Homo sapiens: one gene and its partner. The protein of the gene in region 1 interacts with the protein of each later gene in a pairwise test. Each region holds a gene or a part of one and is shown in the gene's direction. Other genes may lie near its edges. The genes, in order: RAPGEF1 and SLC20A1.

Region 1 (3,816 bases):
AGATTGGCAAGACCAGGGTCAGGACCTCGCCTGCAGATTGGGGATTGCAGATGTGGAGCTGGCTGGAAGTCCAGCCTCCTTGCAGAAGGTCTTTTGCTGCAGTTCATAGGAATCATAGTGAAAGATTACAACTGCCAAGGAAGACTGGGGCGCGCCTGGAGTGAGGATGACCTTTCCTGGTGGTCTCTGCTGGCTATTCTCAGTGAACTTCCCTTTGCATTTAGACGACATTTTGTTAGATTTCTGTTGGAGTTTTTTTAATGGACTTCCCACTATTCAGTCTCCAGAGGAGTATTTGATTCAGAGGAGAGGCCCTTAGGTGAAGTGGTGGCAGAGCCTGACACCAGGCAAACAATTGTTGTGATTGGAGTTTTGCTGTTTTGTTATCTCAAAGCAACAGAAACGTTGCTTAAATATGTTCATAATCTCCTCTCCCTGAAAGTAGAAGAACCAGCGTTTTTAGTTCTCAGTGCTTAAGGCATCCAGGGTTTTTTGGGTAAACAGGAAACCCCTTCACATCCCGCATAGTGTGCAGCTCTGGCCTGTTCCTCATCCCGCCCCCTTGCATTGCCTGATACCTCCTTGGTGTGCAGGACTCTCCTTAACCCCTGGGGGAGATCTTTTGAGTCATTGCTGTTCTTTGGGACATTTTCTTTCTCATGCAGCAGTGCCTGGCTGGGGCAGGGCCTTGAGGGGTTCATCCATACCTATGTATATCCTCAGAGAATACACAAGGTCATAGGCCTCACATTTGGGGGTCCCAAGTGCCATGGGGAATCAAGACAGTCTGGGCCAGAGGGTGGCACAGGGACAACTTGCTGGGCTGGTGGGGGCCTGTCAAGTGAGGCCTGGTGGAGAAAGGTTGAATTTGGAGGGCCAGGAACAAGCTGGGATGCAGGGGAGGCTTTCTAAACTCTACAGTGCTTCTAGAGATGACGAGGAGGTAGGGAGTAGAAGAGAGCTGGACAGATTAGGGAGCTCCCAGGGTGAGCTTGTGGGCAGGCCTGCAGAGGAGAAGAGGCTCTTCCCTAGGAGCTCAGAGGGATTTGTTCTGGAAGACTGATGGGAGATGTATGCAGCTGTTTAGAGGCTGCTTTGGAGAACAAATGAACATGGTTCTGGTTGTGCAAGCAGTTACTGTGGTTCTTTTTGCTCATATATCTTCCAATAAAGACATTGAGCGAGGAGAGTTGATACCGTCATGTTTTTGGAGCTTAAGCACAGACTGGCAGCTGCGGGCTGGATTCAGTCCACAGATATGTTGGGTTGGATCCGCACGTGTTCTTGAGGAAAAAAACAAAAGAATTGATGGTCAATATTGAAAAATCAGGAAGTCACTCAAAAATCTCAAAAGCCTGGTTCCTGATTTCCTTGAAAAATGAGAATCTCTGGTAACTCTGAGCGCTTGTTCCTGCCTACAAGGCAGCTATGGGCAGGAGTCAGGTGGCGGACACTCCCACAGAGCCCCTCACCACTCCCACAGCCAGCCACACCTCCGACGGCCCACTTGGACTTTTGACATTTGCGTTTGCATCCCCTCCTCGGAGAAATGATTCATGTTTGTTTGTTTTTGTCTGGACTTTGAAACCTTTGCCCCATCCCTTCATTGACTCATTACTCCATCCCTCATTCATCAGGGATTGAGCACCGGCTCCATCAGGCTCCGTACAAGGCTCTGGGGACTCAGTGGTGAACTCAGCAGATGTCGTGCTGCCTGCCCTGAATACAGGCATCCTCTGTGTGTCACAGGGTGAGCAGGAAGGTGGCAAGAGATCAGACTTGCAGTGGGGAGGGATGGTCAGGAAACTCCTGTGCTCCTGTGACAAAATGGGACTTAAGGTGAGAGGCGGAGGATGGGTCCACTTAGCTGGGCACAGGCAGTGGGGTAGGGGACCAGTCTCCTGGGGTGGGAGCAGACCAAGGCCTCCTCAGCTGAAGGGAAGAAGGTCCTTGGACTGCATGTGTCAGTTTCAGTCACTCATTCCTTTCTTCCCTCCTTCAGTGGCTTCACTCATCGCCTGCCTCACGGAGCAACCTCCTGAGGGCCTGGAGTTGTTCTTGTTCTTGGGACACAGCAAAGATCCCGGCCTCCTGGGCCATACCTTCTAACTGGGCTGGCCATAAGTTAAGCAGTTTTGTATGTATGTTTTTAAAGTCCCTTTCCTTCCTCTCTGTGCTCCCAGCGAACCACAGGCTGGCTGGGAGTTTCATCATTTACCAGACCCTCCTGCCAGCGCTGTAGCTCCTGTCACCTTGGAGCAGTTCACTGGGCCTGCTAAAGTGGCCACAGGCTTGCCCAGCACGCTGCCTGAAGATGGAATAAATAGGTGTCTCACGCTCAGTGTGCTACGGTTTCAAATGTGTGAAGATGCTTTTATTGTAAATCGAAAAGAAATTTATAATGACTGCATTTCATGGTCACATTTTTGTCATGATATATTTTCTCAGAACAGATACTAAGAGTACAGGCCCTATGATGTAGGGCTACTCATTTTTGTGGCCTGAGAAAGAGGTCCTCTTAGATTGGCAGTCATTGTATTTCGATCAATTTTAAACTCGTCAAATTTGTACTTCCTTTTTCCTCCATAGTTAGGAATTTTTGTCGTCAAAGTATACTCAGTCAAGCAATGAGACATTTTGATGGCACCTGCTCTGCCTCCTTTCACTCACCCGTTTTAACACTTACTGAGTGCCTCCTTGTTGGCAAACACCAAGTGATGCCTCGTGGCAGGGAGCCAGCAGGAACCTGTCCCTGGAGGCCACAGTCCAGGGGTAGAATCAGAACGATCTTGAACATCTCTGCAATTTCCTGTGGTTTTCAGAATGCATTTATAGACTACCTCATTTCATTTCATCCTCACAACAGCCCAGGGGGTGAGGGCAGGGCGGAGTATCCCTCTTTTGCCCCTCAGGGCAGCTAAGGCCCAGGGAAATTTGGTTGTTTGCCCAAGGTCATGCCCTGGAGAAGTGGAATGGGGAACCGGCCCCCTTTCTTGCCTTTATAGAGCACTGGTTAGAGCCTCCCTGGTTGCTGGGGACACAGCTTTCCATCTTAATTCTTCAGGCTTCTCAATCTCTTTTCTGATCTTTGAAAAAAAAGATCTACCAATGAAATTAAGGGAGGCTCACTACAGTCTTTAGACTGCGTCTGATACTCGTAATACTAGTCACATTAACAGTGCTGTAGAGAGATAAGAAATAGCACTAATGCCAGCTAAGTGTGTTTTTAGAAAAATCAACCACAGCAACCCCAAATGTTTCCTGGTCTCCAGAGCAGCTGTTGGCAGAGGCGGTTTGAATGGGATTCCTTGTAGCCAAGAGACCTTATAGGAGGTCTGTAGAGATGAGTCATGTGTGAGCTTGCAGAAAAATGTCTCCCAAAGTAGCCCGGATTGGAGATTGCCTTGAGTGCCAGGCTGGGTCTTACCTCAGGCCAGCTGAGCGTGTTCCCCATGGCCAGGATAAGATCACGCTCTGGAAAGAGGAGAGGCCTGACAACCCACCGCCTGCCCCACCCCGCGGCCGCCTCGCCGCCGGGACAGGTGTTCCTCTGACTCGTCACCCGTCTTGCCCCAAAGGCTGTTTTATGAGTAAATAAATAAAACCCACCGTTTGTGAATTATTAAGGGATCTGTCATCCAGCAGGCCAGTCATCTTAGTTTCTGGTCATCTGTTTGAGAACATCTTAGTTGTGTCCTTGGGTGATTCTTACCCTTTCCTGGGGCTTATTTTCCCCATCAGTGCCAGGAAGGAGTGGGACTCAAAAGGAGCGCTCCTCTGTTTGTGTTTTTAAGCTGTAGCCACTGCCCCCGCCAA
Region 2 (3,816 bases), on another chromosome or scaffold:
AGTCTTTGAAGATATGAAGTCAGGTAAGCAACATCCTAACATAGTCTATTTCTTGACATCTCTTACAAACGTAGAGTATAGCCTATCCTCAGGTGTGTGCTGAAGTTTATATTAGGGCTTTTGGGTACCTTAGAATGTGGGTATTGCAATCTTTATTCAGGATGTTATCAGTCACTGGTACAGTTAGTCTTGTTATTAAAAGAAAAAAGAAAAAAAAACAGGTAGAAGTTGGAATTAGCCTTCGTAGGAAGAATTCCAGATGCAAATGCAGGAAAAACTCTGTTGTCCTTGGAAACTACTCTGGAGAGAGTTATTGGCACTATAATTCCCAAACCTACCCTGTTAAAAGATTCTGTGGAAATGGGTTAACCTTTATACCTTTTAAGATATTGATCTTAATGATGTTTTACAGGCAGATCCAGTTCCTAATGGTTTGCGAGCTTTGCCAGTTTTCTATGCCTGCACAGTTGGAATAAACCTCTTTTCCATCATGTATACTGGAGCACCGTGTAAGTACCTATCAAAATATTTAAATGTGAATTTAAAGTTGTTTACAAAACTTGCATTAAATGCCCAATTTACCCCTTTTTGCTTTACAGGGCTGAAATCTCCTAGAAGGTGGCTGGCCTGCGCCCATTTCAGAAGGCTGCAGGCTAGTGTACGCTGAGTTAACCTAGATAGTTTTTCAACCAAAGAGACCTGCTCAGATTCTAAATCACTACAGACCTTTCCTCTTTAGTCTTCACAGGATCCACTGATAATATGATCATCTCCTTCCCTTTCTCCTGTCTATGCTAAAAATGCTGGAATTAATACTGACCTCAACTACTGAAGTCATTAGTTATATCTGATCTTCAGTAATCAGTCATTTAGGACTGGTTTGCTGGATATTCTCATTTTTCTCTCCCAAATGGAGATACTATTGTTTCTAAGTACTAAACTTCCATGAATCTGCTTGAATGAGAAGAGTTGGGATGTTTACCACCTGCTCTAAGTGCACTTGGAAGAAGAAATTCATGCAGCTAAGAGGAAAAATAATTTGTGAGAATATAAAGGTTGAAATGTTGATGACTTTCATGTTTGGGACTAAGGCAAGGCATGGATTAAATTATGGCGCTACAAGTTTAATTTAGCAACAACAAAAGATTGGTAACTTGTAACTGGCAGGACAGTACAGTTTTGGTATCTAGACTCATTTGGCCTGATGGTCTGTGACTACATAGGCAGTGACTTTTATTCTTTATACTGTGACCCACTGGATGAAATACAGGACACACATGTATGTATGTAGAGAGAAAGATAACTGGAATAGTGTCATGAAGCCACTTAATGCTTACTATGTGCTATGCACCCATATTTTCAAATTCTCTCTTTTTTTTTTTCTTAACATTTGTTGTGGCCCACTGAAATGATTTCAGTTTTGAGTAATGGGTTGTGACTTGCTCTTAAACCTCACTGAAGTAGTAAGTTGCTGACCCAAAGTAGAGTTAGCTAAATATTTTTATTATTTATTTATTTTTTTGAGACAGTTTTGCTCTTGTTGCCCAGGCTGGAGTGCAATGGCATGATCTTGGCTCACCACAACCTCTACCTCCCGGGTTCAAGCAATTCTCCTGCTTCAGCCTCCCAAGTAACTGGGATTACAGGCGTGCACCACCAAGCCCGGCTGATTTTGTATTTTTAGTAGAGACGGGGTTTCTCCATGTTGGTCAGGCTGGTCTCCAACTCCTGACCTCAGGTGGTCCGCCTGCCTCAGCCTCCCAAAGTGCTGGGATTACAGACATGATCACCGCACCTCGCCAATATTTTAATTTTTTACCTTATTTTAGATTGAGGGATTATATGTGTATTTTGTTAGATGGAGCTAAGTATTTTTAATCTTGCTAATTAATTCTTGGAATAATCAGGAACGAAACAGACAACTTTAAGAAAATATTGTTCTTACTTAGACTATACTGAACTGCTATGTGCCGGTGAAGAGAAGTTTGTATGCCAGATTTCCATTGTAAACAGTTCTTTGTGATAAACTAAAAAGTCTCCCATGATGCTCTTAACACTCATTCTTTATGTGGTAGAAGCAAAGCTCAGAGATGAGTGAAATTAGAATCATTTTAAAAACAGAAACTTAGATATTTTCGTTGTGTCCTTTATGGATCATTTGTAAGAAAAACCAGTCTCTTTCCTTTTTGACTTGGAATGTAGACCAACTTAAATTGTGATAGACAGTAATTTCATGTATATTTTAGTTTGTGTGACCACATGATCAAAATTGAAAGCAGAATTTAAAATGAAAAGATACATAGTCACCATAGAATTGTAGTTTGGGGCCGGGCGCGGTGGCTCATGCTTGTAATCCCAGCACTTTGGGAGGCCGAGGTGGGTGGATCATGAGGTCAGGAGTTCAAGACCAGCCTGGCCAAGTTGGTGAAACCTCATCTCTACTAAAAACTAGAAAAACTAACCAGGTGCAGTGGCAGGCGCCTGTAATCCCAGCTACTTCGGAGGCTGAGGCAGGAGAATCACTTGAGCCTGGTAGGCGGAGGTTGCAGTGAGCCAAGATCGTGCCACTGTACTCCAGCCTGGGCGACAGAGTGCGATGCTGTCTCAAAAAAAAAAAAAAAAAGTTCAAAAACAAAAAAAGTTTTAGTTTTGAAGGGACCTCAATTTGTTTCTAATTTTTTTTTTTTTTTTTTTTTTGAGACAGAGTCTCGCCCTGTCACTCAGGTTGGAGTGCAGTGGTGCGAACTTGGGTGACTGCAACCACTACCTCCCGGGTTTGAGCGATTCTCCTGCTTCAGCCTCCCGAGTAGCTGGGATTACACATGTGCATCACCACGCCCAGCTAATTTTTGTATTTTTAGTAGATACGTGGTTTCACCGTGTTGGTCAGTCTGGTCTTGAACTCCCAACCTCAGGTGATCCACGGACCTCAGCCTCCCAAAGTGCTGGGATTACAGGCGTGAGCTGCCGCGTCTGGCCTTGTGTCTGATTTTTAAAGATTAATCATTTTGGGGTATGATAGAATTTCCAGTTTATAAGTACAAACAGTCCCTGACTTCATGGTTCAACCTTCAGTTATTTGACTTTTTGATGGGTTTATAGGTACATAACCTCATTGTAAGTTGAGGAGCATCTGTGATTTCGTACATAACAAGCAAAATAAAGCAAAACAAGCAGAAGTAACTAAGCTATTCCTAGATATCAACTACAGATCATTATAATATCTTTTATGGGTTTTTTTTTTTTTTTTTTACCTTTTTTGTTTTTCAGGGATGGGGTCTTGCTGTGTTGCCCAGGCTGGCCTTGTATTCCTGGGCTCAGGGTGTTCTCACACTTCAGTCTCCTGAGTAGCTAGAGATCATTATAACATCTGTTAGATTTAAATAGGATTGTATAGTGCTTTACTTCTTTTCGTTTGTTTTTGTGACGGAGTTTCGCTCTTGTCACCCAGGCTGGCTGGAGTGCAGTGGCACGATCTTGGCTCACTGCAACCTCGACCTCCTGGGTTCAAGTGATTCTCCTGCCTCAGCCTCCCAAGTAGCTGGGATTATAGAAGCCCACCACCACATCCAGCTGATTTTTTTAATTTTCAGTGGAGACGGGGTTTCACCATGTTGGCCAGGCTGGTCTTGAACTCGTGACCTCAGGTGCTCCACCTGTCTCAGCCTCCCAAAGTGCTGGGATTACAGGTGTGAGCCACTGTGCCTGGCCAGTGCTTTACTTCTGTCTTTAGTACAGGCTAATGGTTTGGAGCCTACTGGCGTGCATATGACAGTCAGATAATGACTAATATTACTCATTCTTAAACCATGTGAA

Evidence for each region.
Region 2: the proteins of RAPGEF1 (region 1) and SLC20A1 interact in a two-hybrid assay, tested with the Homo sapiens proteins (one large-scale study listed by BioGRID and IntAct).

The regions. Positions count from the first base shown.
Region 1 is NC_000009.12:131,733,387-131,737,202, reverse strand, and holds part of RAPGEF1 (rap guanine nucleotide exchange factor 1), read left to right. Parts: intron 1-3,816. UniProt on the Homo sapiens protein: Guanine nucleotide-releasing protein that binds to SH3 domain of CRK and GRB2/ASH. Transduces signals from CRK to activate RAS. Involved in cell branching and adhesion mediated by BCAR1-CRK-RAPGEF1 signaling and activation of RAP1.
Region 2 is NC_000002.12:112,652,290-112,656,105, forward strand, and holds part of SLC20A1 (sodium-dependent phosphate transporter 1), read left to right. Parts: intron 1-412; coding exon 413-509; intron 510-3,816. UniProt on the Homo sapiens protein: Sodium-phosphate symporter which preferentially transports the monovalent form of phosphate with a stoichiometry of two sodium ions per phosphate ion. May play a role in extracellular matrix and cartilage calcification as well as in vascular calcification.